Homo sapiens: one gene and its partners. The protein of the gene in region 1 purifies or fractionates together with the protein of each later gene. This does not show direct contact. Each region holds a gene or a part of one and is shown in the gene's direction. Other genes may lie near its edges.

Evidence for each region. The genes of interacting proteins can lie anywhere in the genome.
Region 2: the proteins of FILIP1 (region 1) and STRIP2 purify together in Homo sapiens (affinity purification with mass spectrometry; one large-scale study listed by BioGRID and IntAct). This does not show direct contact.
Region 3: the proteins of FILIP1 (region 1) and MOB4 purify together in Homo sapiens (affinity purification with mass spectrometry; one large-scale study listed by BioGRID and IntAct). This does not show direct contact.
Region 4: the proteins of FILIP1 (region 1) and STRN purify together in Homo sapiens (affinity purification with mass spectrometry; one large-scale study listed by BioGRID and IntAct). This does not show direct contact.

The regions. Positions count from the first base shown.
Region 1 is NC_000006.12:75,483,801-75,487,300, reverse strand, and holds part of FILIP1 (filamin-A-interacting protein 1), read left to right. Parts: intron 1-3,500. UniProt on the Homo sapiens protein: By acting through a filamin-A/F-actin axis, it controls the start of neocortical cell migration from the ventricular zone. May be able to induce the degradation of filamin-A.
Region 2 is NC_000007.14:129,482,566-129,486,741, forward strand, and holds part of STRIP2 (striatin-interacting protein 2), read left to right. Parts: intron 1-276; coding exon 277-481; coding exon of another isoform or gene 482-504; exon of another isoform or gene 505-1,066; intron 1,067-3,013; coding exon 3,014-3,264; 3' UTR 3,265-4,176. UniProt on the Homo sapiens protein: Plays a role in the regulation of cell morphology and cytoskeletal organization. Required in the control of cell shape. Calmodulin-binding scaffolding protein which is the center of the striatin-interacting phosphatase and kinase (STRIPAK) complexes.
Region 3 is NC_000002.12:197,518,700-197,522,875, forward strand, and holds part of MOB4 (MOB-like protein phocein), read left to right. Parts: intron 1-4,176.
Region 4 is NC_000002.12:36,854,727-36,858,902, reverse strand, and holds part of STRN (striatin), read left to right. Parts: intron 1-879; coding exon 880-1,047; intron 1,048-3,550; coding exon 3,551-3,691; intron 3,692-4,176. UniProt on the Homo sapiens protein: Calmodulin-binding scaffolding protein which is the center of the striatin-interacting phosphatase and kinase (STRIPAK) complexes.

The DNA.
Region 1 (3,500 bases):
TGGAAAACAAAGATGGTCTGCTCATCAGGGCAAGCCAGGAAGAGTTTTGCCAGCTCAGATTTTTCCTAATTATTCTATAAGTCTTGAAATGTGACACTGGAGGTATTCAAAGCTCTTTGTGTTTCATTAACTGTTTAGTAAGGGACACATGCTTGAAGAGCAGCCTGGTATTTGGATCAGGGAGTGGCCTTACATATAAGCTTAACTTTCACTCGCTGTGTTGATAGATATCATCTTCTGGTTTGAATACACCAAACCAACTGGTTTGGCCATAGCCTGTTGTTCGTTCTGGTCTTTAAGGAAGTCAGCTGCATTGGTCGAGTTCACTTCTCAGGGCCCGTCAACTTTTGATAAGACATCCCCAACTTCTACATTCTGCTCATTCCATAAGTAATAATAATAATAATGGCTACATGTAATATATATTATCTATATAATATACAACATATGCAGTACATTTACTATATAAAATGATAGGAATAACTAGCATATACTTGAGAATATTACTATGTGCCAGGAATTGTGCCAAGCATTTTACATGGATGATTTTATTTGCTTCTCGTAACAACCCTATGAGGTACTATTTTTATCACTATTTTACAGATTAGGAAAATGAGGTTATAAATGTTAAATAACTTACCTAGTAGTAGATTTAAAATCCAAATCCAGGCAATTTGACCTTATCTATTCGATAGTTTCAACCACTTTTTAAAATTCAGGCAGTTGTTTATGGAACACCTCCACCTAGATGACTATGAGATGTTTTACTGAAACATGTAGAATGTGACACTGCAAGGTAACAGCTGCCCCTATAGTATTAAAAGATTCACAAAGTGCAAAGAATAAAGAGATTTAGGGTCAGAAGGCTAACAGAGGCTCTTTTCCAGGATCCCAAAGTGGAATCAGAAGCTTCAATGGCCAGTAGAGTTGGGCCACCCTGGATGAGCTAGGCCTGGGGCACTGAGATGCAGAAGTGATTCTTCCAGTTGTTGATGGGGCAATGTGGTTCTTGGTTTCTACACGCTGGGTTGATTCCCAAGAAGAGGATGCCATGGAGCATTTGATTTTGTACCACCTCCTTTGACACTGTTGGGGCTTTTGTCTGCTGTTGCTCCTATTGACAACTCAGAGCCCCACCTTATATTGTAAACTTTGAATGTGCTGCCAGTCTCTACCTTGGTCATAAACATTTAGTTTGTGAAGTGGGTTCAAGAGGGAGTTCTATGAAATACTTATCCCCGTTGTTGGTAGCAATACTTCTTCAAGAAACCTTTGGTGGAGTGTGTGTGTGTGTGTGTGTGTATGTGTGTGTGTGTGTGTGTGTGTGTGTGTTTTGGTCAGAAGGCAGTGAGGAAGGCGGTAGAAGGTGCTCCACATAAAGGCTTGTTATTGGTTCCAAATGACTTTGTTTTGGTAGTGAGTTGCTATTCTGGCAGCATGATGTTCCTTCAAAAAAATAAAATAAAACAGAGAGCTTGCTGTAGTTTAAGAAAAATTGCCTGACGCTTTTCAGCCATTTTGCTACTATGGATCAGAGGCATATTTTATTGGATATTTTATTTAATTCTTTTATCTTTATTTGCCTGCATGATGTCCAAATGTCTGACTATTTGGAAATAATTGAAACTTTTGAGTTTCTATTTGCATTTCTGGCATTTAACTTTCAGATTGTTTGAAGTAAAAGGAGAGCGATTCTAATAAAACTTCGATGGAGCAGATAATGCTTTGCTTTCTCTTATGCCAGTGGCCAGAAAGACTACTTTTCCAGGGTATCACATATCCCAGGTAGTGGGATTGAATATCCCAGGAAGGTGAATGTTTTATATGGGATGGAATATAACAGAATAAATCTCTACTTTCTGAGAAATTCTATTCTAATAAATTGAAACAGTAACTTGTCACAACTATACTAGCACACCCCAACTCCCCATCCCCAAACACACTACATTCATTATTGGTTAATAGCACAGGACTTGTACTGCTACTCACCTGACAGGCTAAACATCTTCCTGAAGCAAATATACTGTTTGCTGTGTGATACAGACCTGTTTAATCCAAGTCAATGAAAAAGAAGTAAAGGCAGAGATGTGTTACATTTCACGAAGGCTGTCTGTTTTCTTGACATAACATCTCTTGATTTCTTTACAATAAACTCAGTTTTCCTTTTTTCTTCTCCTGTCTTTATGTAAAAAGGTGTAATAGTGTCAAAGGAGAAAAAGAACTGTAATTTTTTTTTCACCCACCCAGAAAAAGAGTATTTGTGTTCTCTTCTTTGGAGACAAAGAGTTTGACTGGTTGGCCTCTAGAAGTATTTTTTTCCTCATTCAATTATTCTAAATTTCTTTTGGTACACAACAGCGATAATTTCCACATTAGTCTTTAGCTAATTTTTAAGATATTAACAGCTTATCATATTCATTCAAGAATTATCTAAGACTTCTGTAAGATTTCCTAGTTCTCTTTGCACATCTGCCCCTAGTCTGATTGTGAGCAGGCACAGGGCCTTGAGTACCACAATGTCAATGATTACATGGCTTTGGTCCTGGGGACAGCTATACCTTACAGGAAACCAAAAGGAGTGGAAACCTCTAGACTCTGACCTCACTTGAAACCATCTGATTATCTAGTACTGTGGCTCTCAACACTCTCTGTGCATCAAAGTCACCTGGGGTGCTTTAAAAATGCAGATGCCTGGGCTATGCCCCCAGAGGTTCTGATTTAAATTGGCCTGAGAGGGTGCCCAAGTATTGGTCTATTTTCTAAGCTTTTGTGTGATTTTAATTCGCATCCAATATTGAGAACCTGTTATCGCAATCATTTTAAAGACAGTACTTTAAAAGTACTTTAAAAGACAGTACTTTAAAAGTACTTTAAAAGACAGTACTTTAAAAGTACTTTAAAAGACAGTACTTTCAAATGATGAGTGCCACCTCATCATTTTAAAGAAGATAGTACTAGAATGAGAAGTCACTCAGCTCAAGTTACAAAACCTTCCGCAGGTAGAATTGAGTATGGAACTGTGATTATTCAACCCTTGGTAGTGGGTACTTTCTACACCTTGCAGTGGCTGTGTTCCTGTCTCAAGAGAACTGACACTCAGGATCGTTGCCTGGCTTACTTTTAAGATCTTGACTTAAGGATTTTTGATTACTTTCTGGGTCCCTTTCTATGACCGCACCTCAGTTCTGTACAAGAGTCACATAGGTGGAAAAAGAAGTAAAGCAAGGACCAGAACTTAAGTCCCCTGAGCCCCAGTCTATTACTTTTTTCTATCACACAATCATAATAAACAATAAAGTAGCTAATATTTAATGAATGCTTTCTGTATGTTAGGCACTAACAGTTTCATAAGGCAGATACACATATACTATATATTTTACAGATAAGGAGGCTGAGGGAATTGTTCATCTCCCCCCAGCCCCCAGCAAGCAGGTGGCAAGTCTGGGATGAGTCCAGGCAATTGGACTCCCCAGCCTGTGCGTGTAAGCTCTTAATCACTT
Region 2 (4,176 bases), on another chromosome or scaffold:
TGGGGTTTCATCATGTTGGCCAGGGTGGTCTCAAACTCCTGACCTTACGTGATCCACTGGCTTCGGCCTCCCAAAGTGCTGGGATTACAGACATGAGCCACCTTGCCCAGCCCCCCTCTATATTCTTGAAGATTAAATCTAAGTAGAGCCTGGACCATAGATTCCTGAAAGCTCCCCAGGAATTTCTGAGGCTAGCTAGGTTTGGTTTAATTTGTCTGTAAACTGGAAATTCCAAGAAACGTTAGATCTTTACCCCACCCCTCTTTCAATGAACAGATGCTGGTAGTGTTTAAATCGGCACCAATCTTAAAGCGGGCCCTCAAGGTCAAACAGGCCATGCTGCAACTTTATGTCCTAAAGCTACTAAAGTTACAGACCAAGTACCTGGGGCGCCAATGGAGGAAAAGCAACATGAAAACCATGTCAGCCATTTACCAGAAAGTGCGTCACCGCATGAACGATGACTGGGCTTACGGGAATGGTGAGTCTTCCCAAAGCTCTTGACTTCCTGGAGTTTCCTGGGGTTTAGACAAAACTAAATAAATATTTATCACTCCTCTTTTGGCATGAATTGTTACATATTTTAGATGAAAAAATATGTGATTATAGGTCAGGCGCTGATACACCAAACTTTAAGGTTATGCCTCAAATTCTAGTATGTACCCTTGTCCTATGTAAACTATGAAAATCCGTTTTATAAAACAAGTAAATTGAGAGATAATTAATTGCCTTTCCAAAACATTCTTTTAAATGACAGCTTTCTCCAAAAGATTTAAATTAAAACAACTTTTTATTATTACAAAGCAGTTAGAAAAAAAGATAGAAAATACAAGTAAACAAACATTTTACTATATTATATTTATGCCATATTTGTACTATGCAGAAATTGCCACCATTAACATCTTATTGTATATTCCTCCAGATCTTTTTCTATGCATATACATGCATATTTTATCAAAATGAAAGCAAGTTATGTATGCTATTTTGTAATTTTCTCTTTTAACATTATCTCTACCTTTTCATGTCAGTACATTTTCATTTCATCTAATAAAGTTCATATTCACAATTTTCGAGTTGTCCCAAAATGTTCTTCATAGCTATTTTTCCAAGTCAGAATCCAATCCAGGACCACAGGTTGCATCCAGTTGTTATATATATGTTAATTATTTTTGTTTTCTGTTTTTTGTTTGTTTGTTTTTTTGAGAGGGTCGCTCTGTCACCCAGGCTGGAAAGCAGTGACATGATAATGGCTCACTGCAGCCTCGACTTCCTGGGCTCAAGTGATCCTCCCAGCTGCCAAGTAGCTGGGACTACAGATGCATACCACCACTACACCCGGCTAATTTTTCAAATTTTTTTGTAGAGATGGAGTCTCTCCCTGTGTTGCCCAGGCTGGTCTTGAACTCCTGGGCTCAAGGGATCCTCCTGCCCTGGCCTCCCAAAGTGCTGGGATTACAGGTGTAAGCCACCGTGCTTGGCCTCTAAGCAGTCTCCCCACCTCCACCATTAATGCTAACTAATTGAAGAACTAGGCCAGTTGTCCTGCAAAATACTCACATTCTGGATTTGTCTGTTTTCTTCTTTGTGGTGTTATCTACTTTATTCGTCTATCTATGGTATTACCTGTAAACTTGAAGTTAAATCTAAAGGTTTGATGAATTCAATTTAAACCTTTTTGGCTGCAGTATGTCCTAGGTAATCTTGGGAACTGTACATTGCCTCACATCAGAAGGCAAGATATTTGGTTAAACTACCAGAACTTGTAAGATTGATCAGAGTTTGGAAAAATTTATTTTGGAGAGCTTTTTTATTGTTTTGTATTTGACCATTATTTCCATAATTGTATTTGAGAATTTTTGGTAATGACTTGTCTTTGCTGTGTTTGTAACCTGCTTGAATTTTAAAGGATGATGCAGTAAAGAGTTCAGATAACTCTACTTACTTACCTGGCAGGGAAAATACCATGATCATGAAGATGGTTTTCCCAGGACAAGTCTTATCCATTTTACTCCAGATATGCTGACCCCTGCTATTCCCCTAAATGTGGGAAACTCAACTGCATAATTTGTGGTGCTGAGGGACTGTCTTTTCACTAAAAAAGGGTTTAGAGAACTAAAGGAAACATATGATAGGCACATAACAAGCCAGGATGCAACTTCTGCTATAAGACATAAAGCACAATTATCTATTAAATTCTTGTAAATTTTTAAAACACAAAAATGTTTTATCCTGCAAATGGCACATCTGTTGTTGCTGCCATTATGAGCCCAAACTCACACTACACTTCCTTATGATAAACCCTTGCATGTAGAACATGAGAGATCTGGGAGATTTGTATCTTCAGCCCTGAAATAAGTGTCTAAGTGAATAGAAGCGAAACAGATTATCTGTTTTCTGTTTTTACCTTCATTGAAGCCGTCACCTCATCATCTTAAAATAAGCTGACATATAGATTTATCATGTGCTGGAGGAGATTCCAGGGAATCAGGAAAATCTTCGGTAATTGGTCCATTCTGATTCTCCATGTTATACCCCTCTTGCCCCTTCCTATTCCTTGAAAGCTGGCTATTCCATTCAGATGGGACACTCATCCCCTAAGGAAAGCTGCATAAAAGGAATTTAATTACCCTTTTGGGAAACATAATACATATAACTAGTAATACATAAAGCTAATAAGAAAGTGAAATAATAAAAAGGAAATACAATAGAAGAAGTCCACCTCCCTCTGGGCCCTCATTTCCTTTCTCATAGGTAACCACTATTACCAGTTTCTAGACTACCCTTCCAAAGATAATTTCTGCATATACAAGCTTATGCATGTGGGCATATGTGTATTTTTTAAACCTAAGTGTCAGCATGCTGTATACTAACTTCATACATTGCTCTTTACAAAAAAAAAAAAAAAAAGAATTTCTGAGCAGTTCCATTTTTGGAATCCCATAGACCATGCTCTGTGATAAGAGGAGCAGTGTCTTGCATTGTATGTCTTCTTCTTCCTCTCTTTCCAACACAGACATCGATGCCAGACCATGGGACTTCCAAGCAGAAGAATGTACCTTGAGGGCCAACATTGAGGCTTTTAACAGCCGTCGCTATGACAGACCCCAGGACTCTGAGTTTTCACCTGTGGATAACTGCTTGCAGAGCGTACTGGGGCAGAGGTTGGATCTGCCTGAAGATTTCCACTATTCATATGAGCTCTGGCTCGAGAGAGAGGTGTTTTCACAGCCCATCTGTTGGGAGGAGCTGCTCCAGAATCACTGACTAAGTTCTTGTCAACAAGCATCAATAGATAGAGGTCAGCTCCAATAAACTGTGCTCTGCCTACCCTGTCCATACAGGCGCTGTTACCAGTTCAGGGCTCTTCTGGGGGCTCTTGGGCCTAAAGATGGTGCAAGGGTGGGATCCTGAATCACAATAAAATGATCAACTTGCCCTGGGGTCAGTTGGGTGCCCAGTTGGCCTTGGAAATCTTTTGGTGGATCAATTCTAGACAAGCTCTTTGGTAGGACCTTTTCCTGCTTTAGTCTTGGCTACAACCAGGCTAGACTTTGCTGGCTCTAAAAGAGGAAATTTGTTATGGCATTTGACCCATGGCATTCATCACAGATAGTGGGAGGTACAAGTCATAAAATAGGGAGAAAGTTTTCTTCTTGCTCACACTGGATTCCTAGGACTTATCAGAGATTTGGAAAAACCAACTTTGAAATTAAGTTTGCATTTTAAATTTCAAATTTGGAAGCCTCTTTCTGAAATCATTAGCTCTAAGATTATTTTAGAGCACCTGCACCTTCTTTGTGAAGGATGATGATTTACTATTCCCTCAATACTGCATGTTATCGAAAAGTGTGTTGTGTAAAGTGTTTTTTTCCTCATTCTGTAAGAGATCTATATTCAATGTGAAAATTATTTCCTTGTGTACTCTGTATAGGGCATGGAATGCTCTGCCATTTTTAAAGAGCCACAACCAATATGAAATAATTAGGTCCTCTCTAAGGATGTTTCATGTTTTTCTTAAATGACTCCAGTCTTCAAATGGCTGAGCATACTGCAGAAAATTATCCTTTTCATCTAATTCATTTTTTAAATGACAAGTTAACTACAGGAGGCTTTATTTATTCAGATGGTATGTCCACTTGTGGTCGTGATCAATATATTTTTCTAATTGAAAAGTAA
Region 3 (4,176 bases), on another chromosome or scaffold:
TTGCAGGTGCCTGCCACCACGCCCGGCTAATTTTATTTTTATTTTTATTTTTATTTATTTTATTTTATTTTTTGAGACAAGAGTCTCACTCTGTCGCCCAGCCTGGAGTGCAGTGGCACGATCTTGGCTCACTGCAAGTTCCACGTCCCGGGTTCACGCTGTTCTTCTGCCTCGGCCTCCCGAGTAGCTGGGACTACAGGCGCTAACCACCACGTCTGACTAATTTTTTTTTGTATTTTTAGTAGAGATGGGGTTTCACTGTGTTAGCCAGGATGGTCTGGATCTCCTGATCTCGTGATCCGCCCGTCTCGGCCTCTGAAAGTGCTGGGATTACAGGCATGAGCCACTGCGCCCAGCCAATTTTTTTTGTATTTTTAGTAGAGATGGGGTTTCAGCGTGTTAGCCAGGTTGGTCTCGAACTCCTGACCTCAAGTGATCTTCCCGCCTCAGCCTCCCAAAGTGCTGGGATTACAGGCGCAAGCCACCACGCTGGGCTTCATAGTTGGTTTTCAATAAATGTTTGTTGGTTGAATTAGATGAGAATCTTTATTAAGCTGAATTTTTGGTGTCTCTCATAGGCATCTAAAATATGTCACAGTTATGAGAAGGCGAAACATTTCATTCTCAACATCTTTTCTATATATAGTCATCATTGGTGTCCTCTGGGGATTGGCTCCAGGATAACTCCGTACCCCCACCCCATACCAAAATCTGAGGATGCTTAAGTTTCTTAAGTAAAATGGCATAGTGTTTGCATATAACCTATGCACATTCTGTTATATAGTTTAAATCAACTCTAGATTACTTAATAATACCTAATGCAATGCGTGTTCTGTAAATAGTTGTTATACTGTATTTAGGGAATAATGACCAAAAAGAAAGCCGGTACATGTTTAGTACATACGCAACTATCTTAGACCTAACTAGGTACATAGTACATGTCAGCAACAATATAACATTTTCTGTATTTTTTTTCTCCCCTGAAATGAATATTTTCAATTCCTGGTTGATTGAATCTGCAGATTAAACCTGCAGATATGGAGGGCCAACTGTACATGTGTTTTCTAATATTTTAAAAACAACATTCTGTAAACTTCCTTAGTTTTTTTAAAAAGGAAAGAATAGACAGAGTATTGGTAGAAACTTTAGATCATATAGGAAAAATTTTAGAATTGCTCTTTAATAGATAATGTCTAAGAAAAGGAATCCTGGAACCATTTCTAGAAGATTGTTTTATTTCTTGATATTTTCCTTTAATAAAATTAGTTCATTTTCATCCAGATAGGCCAGCTATTTCAAAAAAGATGAAATGTTTAAGACACTTAAAAAGGTGTACTCATTACCTACTGTCCAAACGGGGACATTGCTACTATAGTTGAATCCTTATGGAAGACATTCTCTGTCTTCTACCCTATCATTCCTTTTCTTTTCTGTATACTTTTACTATATATGCATTATATCCATAAGTATGCCTTGCACTTAAACTTTTTTTTTTTTTTTTGAGACAGAATCTCGCTCTGTCTCCCAGGCTGGAGTGCAGTGCTGCACTCTCGGCTCACTGCAAACTCCGCTTCCTGGGTTTGCGCCCACCACCACGCCTGGCTAATTTTTTGTATTTTTTCATAGAGATGGGGTTTCACCGTGTTAGCCAGGATGGTCTCGATCTGCTGACCTCATGATCCGCCTGCCTCGGCCTCCCAAAGTGCTGAGCGTGAGCCACCGCGCCCGGCCTAAACTTTATTCATTTTATATACACTGTGTTTACTTCTAATTTGCTTTTTTTGCTCAAGGTTTTGAAGACTTAATCTTTGTTGATTGTTTTTACAGGTTTATATACAGGTTTATAGATTATTGGTTTACTCTTACCTCCTCCCCACCAAGTTTTACCTCAGAGACATTTGAGCTTCAAAGATGTGTCAGGCATTGTGCTACCCACTGAGGTTACATAGGTAAACTTTTCTGAAAAATCAGTCAAATGGAAAGGTTCTTAATCACTTAGGGGAATATCTGTTAACTGTATTATCTACAGAGAATTCCAGAACCAGGGCAAGATGCTCTATAAAAATATCCCCCTTAAGCTGGGCATGGTGGCTCATGCTTGTAATGCCAGCACTTTGGGAGGCTGAGGCTGGAGGATTGTTTGTGACCAGGAGTTTGAGACCAACCTGGCCAACAAAGTGAGACCTCGTCTCTTAAAAAAAAAAAAAAAAAAAAAAAAGAAGAAGAAATAAAAATATTCCCTTTAACAGAAAGCTGGTTTATTTGATGTTTCCTTCTCTTTTTAAAATTTTTGTGGGTATATAGTAGGTGTATATATTTGTAGGTTACATGAGATATTTTGATACAAGCATGCAGTGTATAATAATCACATCAGGGGGGTAAATGGGGTATCCATCACCATAAACATTTGTATCGGGGAACCTGCCCCGATAGTCACGTAGGTTCTTTTCTATTTTCCCTAAGCATCAGCCAGTTTGAGAAATGAAGGGACAGAGTACAAAAGAGAGAAATTTTAAAGTTGGGCGTCCGGGGGAGACATCACATGTCGGTGGGTACCGTGATGCCCCACAAGCTGCAAAACCGGCAAGTTTTTATTAGGGACTTTCAAAAGGGGAGGGAGTGTACAAATAGGGTGTGGGTCACAAAGATCACGTACTTCACAAGGTAATAGAATATCACAAGGGAAATGGAGGCAGGGCGAGATCACAGGACCACAGGACCAGAGCAAAATTAAAATTGCTAATGAAGTTTCGGGCACCATTGTCATTGATAACATCTTATCAGGAGACAGGGTTTTGAGAGCAACCGGTCTGACCAAAATTTATTAGGTGGGAATTTCCTCTTCCTAATAAGCCTGGGAGCACTATGGGAGACTGGGGTTTATTTCACCCCTACAGTTTCGACCATAGAAGACGGCCATACCCAAGGGGGCCGTCTATAGACCCACCCCCAGGCGTGTATTCTCTTTCCCAGGGATGTTCCTTGCTGAGAAAAAGAATTCAGCGATATTTCTCCCATTTGCTTTTGAAAGAAGAGAAATATGGCTCTGTTCCGCCCGGCTCACCAGTGGTCAGAGTTTAAGGTTATCTCTCTTATTCCCTGAACAATTGCTGTTATCCTGTTCTTTTTCCAAGGTGCCCAGATTTCATATTGTTCAAACACACATGCTCTACAGTTTGTGCAGTTAACACAATTATCACAGGGTCCTGAGGTGACATACCTCCTCCTCAGCTGACAGGATTAAGAGATTAAAGACAGGCCTAGGAAATCACAAGGTATTGATTGGGGAAGTGATAAGTGTCCATGAAATCTTCACAATTTGTGTTTAGAGACTGCAGTAAAGACAGGCATAGGAAATTATAAAAGTATTAATTTGGAGAACTAATAAATGTCCATGAAATCTTCACAATCCACATTCTTCTGCCGTGGTTTCAGCCGGTCCCTCAGTTTGGGGTCCCTGACTTCCTGCAACACATTTGTCCTTTATGTTGCAAAAAATTAGATTCTTTTAGTTTTTTTTAAATGTACAATTAAATTGGTTTTTACTATAGTCACCCTATTGTGCTAGCAAATACTAGGTCTTATTCATTCTTTCTATTTTTTTTGTACCCATGGGTGATTACCTTTTTTTTTTTTTTTTTTTTTTTTTGAGATGGAGTCTTGCTCTGTCACCCAGGCTGGAGTGCAGTGGCGTGATCTTGAGTCACCACAGCTTCCGCCTCCTGGGTTCAAGCAATTCTCCTGCCTCAGCCTCCTGAGTAGCTGGGATTACAGGCGCACGCCACCATGCCCGGCTATTTTTTGTATTTTTAGTAGAGACGGGGTTTCATCATGTTGGCCAGGCTGGTCTCGAACTCCTGACCTCAAGTGATCCTTCCGCCTCGGCCTCCCAAAGTGGTAGGGTTACTGGTGTAAGCCACCATGCCCAGTCTGATGATTACTTTTTAATGGTGCCCATATTTTGATTTAGAAATTCAAAACTCTATTTGGAATGAGAATAATAATTTATAATTTCTTTTTAAAATAATACTTATGGGTCGATCATGGTGGCTCACGCCTGTAATCCCAGCACTTTGGGAGTCTGAAGTAGGCGGATCACGAGATCAAGAGATTGAGACCATCCTGGCCAACATGGTGAAACCCTGTCTCTACAAAAAATACAAAAATTAGCTGGGT
Region 4 (4,176 bases), on another chromosome or scaffold:
ACTCTCTGCTAACTGATGTCTGTCACAATTATTGTACTTTCAACATTGTCTGTTGAGGACTGGGATAGAATTGGGTATTAATCATGTATTTGGCTCCATCATTGAGCATAGTGCCTGACACACAGTGTGTCTTCAATATTTTATGGTATGTGTGACAGAGGATATAAGACATAACACCATTGACATTTCCAGACTTAACATTTGTGAGTCATCTTGAAAGTACCACTTCATAGAATCATTGTGAAGATTAATAAGGTTTCCAATTTGACTTTTATCATGAGACTGTGCTTAACCTCCCCACTTCCCTCCCTCTTCCCCTGCATACACTATCACTGCATCTCAGTTACTGCTGTTTGAGAATTTGGGGATTCCTGTAGATGTCACTTCCTGTCCATTATGAATGCCATATTTTCAGGAAAAACTGCCATCCATCATATAGTAAGATAAGTGAACAGAAGGAAGTATAGCCAAAGTGCTAAGGGACTTCAGAGAGGGAGAGGACCTCTCTGTTCACTTCCTCAGGGAGTGTGAGTTGTGGTTTCTCCAAAGATGAATTAAATTCAAATGATTTCGTATCAACGTGCTTTAAAAATATTTAGACAAATGGAAGGACAAAAGGAAGGGGGAGGAAATACTCAGTTTTTTTAAGGGGGAAAAATACGTGCTTTTAAATTTTAATTTAAAATTTTTTAACTTTATATTTGTATATTTCCAAGCTTGTTTTGATTTACTGTAGCCTGTCAGAAGAATAATAGAAACCAAGAATCATATTTTATACTGTTATCAGGTGCTATTGTTTATATATTTTACTTTCTCTGAAATCTAAGTACCTTTGTGGTTGTTTTTCTCCTGATTTTGCATTTTTACTGTTTTGTATAGATCCTTCTGTTTTACGAGGCCCTCTGCTAGGCCACACGGATGCAGTCTGGGGTTTGGCTTATAGTGCAGCACATCAGCGTTTGTTGTCCTGTTCAGCAGATGGCACTCTGCGTTTATGGAATACAACTGAGGTTGCTCCAGCACTAAGTGTATTTAATGATACTAAAGGTACATACTTTAAAAAATTATTTTGCTGAATCCTCTATAAAACAGTTTATTCTGAAAATAAGCAAGCAGATAAATGATTCCCTGAACTCTTTAAATTTAATTTGAAAGTTTTTGAAGCCACGAAAGTGTATTTGTTTGAATTTCCAACCTATATATAATTTTGTTTTGTTTTGTTTTGTTTTGTTTTGTTTTTTTTGAGACGGAGTATCACTCTGTTGCCCAGGCTGGAGTGCAGTGGCGCAATCTCGGCTCACTGCAACCTCCATCTCCCAGTTTCAAGCAATTCTCCTGCCTCAGCCTCCAGCACACACCACCACGCTCAGCTAATTTTTGTAGTTTTTTTAGTAGAGACAGGGTTTTGCTGTGTTGGCCAGGCTGGTCTGGAACTCCTGACCTCAAGTGATTCGCCTGCCTCAGCCTCCCGAAGTGCTGGGATTACAGGCATGAGCCACTGCACCCAGCCTATAATTTTTGAAAGCATAGTTTTTGGTGAAAGAACACACAGATTTTAGATTTTAAAAAATTAAGATATAATTTGTATGTAGTGAAAAACAGATATTAAGGATACATTTCAGTGAGTCTGATAGATGAGTACACCCATGTAACTCATACATCAATCAAGACATAGAATCCAGGTGTGGTGGCTCACACCTGTAATCCTAGCACTTTGGGAGGCTGAGGCAGGAGGATCACGAGAGGCCAGGAATTTGGGACCAGCTGGGCAACATAGCGAGGCCCTGTCTCTACATTTTCTTTAAAAAAAAAAAAGACTATATTTGCCCATTCTCGTACCACTATAAAGAAATACCTGAGACTGGGTAATTTGTTTAAAAAAAAAAAAGGTTTAATTGGTTGACGGTTCTGTACAGGAAGCATAGCAACTTTTCTTTGGCTTCTGGGGAGGCCTCAAGCAATTTACAATCATGGTGGAAGTCAAAGGGACAGGAGGCATGTTTTACATGGCCGGAGCAGGAGGAAGAAGGGGGTGGGACCTATTTTTAAACAACCAAATCTTGTGAGAACTCTATCACGAGAATAGCACCAAAGGGGAAAATCCACCCCATGATCCAATCACCTCCCGCCAGGCCGTATCTCCAATATTGGGGATTATGTTTGACATGAGACTTGAGTGAGGACACAGATCCAAACCGTATGAGAGATAGAACATTTCCTTTATCTCCCCAAAGTTCCTTCGTGTCTTTCCAAGTCAGTCCCCTCCTTTCCTTATTCCCAGCCAGAGGTACCCACTGTTGTGATTTCTTTCATCATAGATTAGTTTTATCTACTCAAACGTCATGTAAATGGAATAGTAAAGTATGTGTTCTTTGTATCTTGCTTTTATTCTTCATTATAATGTTTTGGAAATTCATTTGTGTTATATCAATTATTTCTTTCATTTTTATTTGATAGTATTTCATTAAGCCATAATTTGTCTATTCATTTATATCTTGATGGATATTTGGGTTGTCTCTAGTTTTTTGCTATTTTGAACAAGGCTGCTATGAACATTCATATATTTTCATTATAGGTGTGTAGAGACTTAGAATTGCTGGGCTTTCAGGTGGATGTTTATTTTACTTTATGTGAAGTCACTAAAAATTTTTCAAAAAAATTTTGTAGTTGTACCATTTTACACCTTTGACAGCAGTGTATGAGCATTCCAGTTGCTCTGCATCCTTACAAACATACAGTATTGTCAGTCTGTTTAACTTTAGCCATTCTGGTGGATGTGTAGTAGTATTTCATCATAGTTTATTTGCATTTCTTTGATGGCTAATTTTGATGAGCATTTCTTTTGTTTGCTTATTGGTTATTTGTGTATCTTCTTCTGCAGTATGCACATTTTTGAACTGTTACCTTGCTGTAGTTAGATTTTGAGCCAAATGAAAAAAATCAGATTATTATATTCACTTTATATGTTTCCTTCTATTTTTATGTTTATAAATAAGCTCTAAGTTTTCATGTATTCTAGATGGTAAATAAAAATACCTTCTGTATTCTTGAGCTATTATAACTTCTTTCCAGGCTTTGATGAGTTGTCTTCATATGGTATTTGCATGACTCTAACGATAAATAATAATTTTAAATTTTACTTTTTAATTTCTCTATTTTTGATGAGCTAACATCCCTAATAAGAGATGGGTTTTTTAAAATGAAGAATTCCCACTATGTCACTCTAAGCTTGAGGTTGGGCGGAAGCAGCAAAATTTGTAATTCATACATGTTTTCCATTTGCTCTCTAAATAAAGGCTTGCATTCCATGAATATATCAGTTGAGTAACAGGTAGAAGATCTGCTAAGCAGGTAAGGGAAATAAATAGACTAGGGCTAAAAGTTACAAAGAAATAATCTCCAATGAATAGTTATGAGCTAATTCTTATTCTAATGGTAAGCCTTGTTTACTTCTTAAGGAAACCATGCCATTTTTTGTTTTGCTCTATTTTAAGCAGATTGTCAAGTAGATGGTTTAATTGCCATTCTATTTCAATATGTTCTCTTTCAGAACTGGGAATCCCTGCCTCTGTGGATCTAGTGAGCAGTGACCCGAGCCATATGGTAGCATCATTCAGCAAGGGATATACAAGCATTTTTAACATGGAAACACAACAACGCATTCTCACTTTAGAATCCAATGTAGATACAAGTATGCATACCAATTTTAAATTGTCTGTGTTTATTTTTTTAACTTAATCAAAATTACGACTACTAGAGTCAGCTGTGAAAAATATTTGTCATTATAAAGCTTTCTGTCTCTTAACTTTCAGAACACAGTTACTTAGAAGGTTGTAATTATTTACCTTTTAAGAATTTGGGTTAAGTTTATGTACATTTATAACTATACTGTTTGAAATAGCATTTGAGCTGTTATGGGTCAAGTTTTATTTTATACTAAATGATTAATTTTCAATTCTATTTGAAGAAAGCCATATTTATTCTGAATAGGAAATTCTATTTTTCATTTCTCGTAATTTCATATTTTAAATCAACTTAATTTTATATTAATAGTATGATTTGGTACAGCTCAATACAGATCATGTTGTGGCACTCAGAATTCCAAACCTGAAGCTTCTTATTGGATGCAGGAAGTCAGGAAATAAGTGCTTTTTCAGGTTATGAAGAAGATATTAC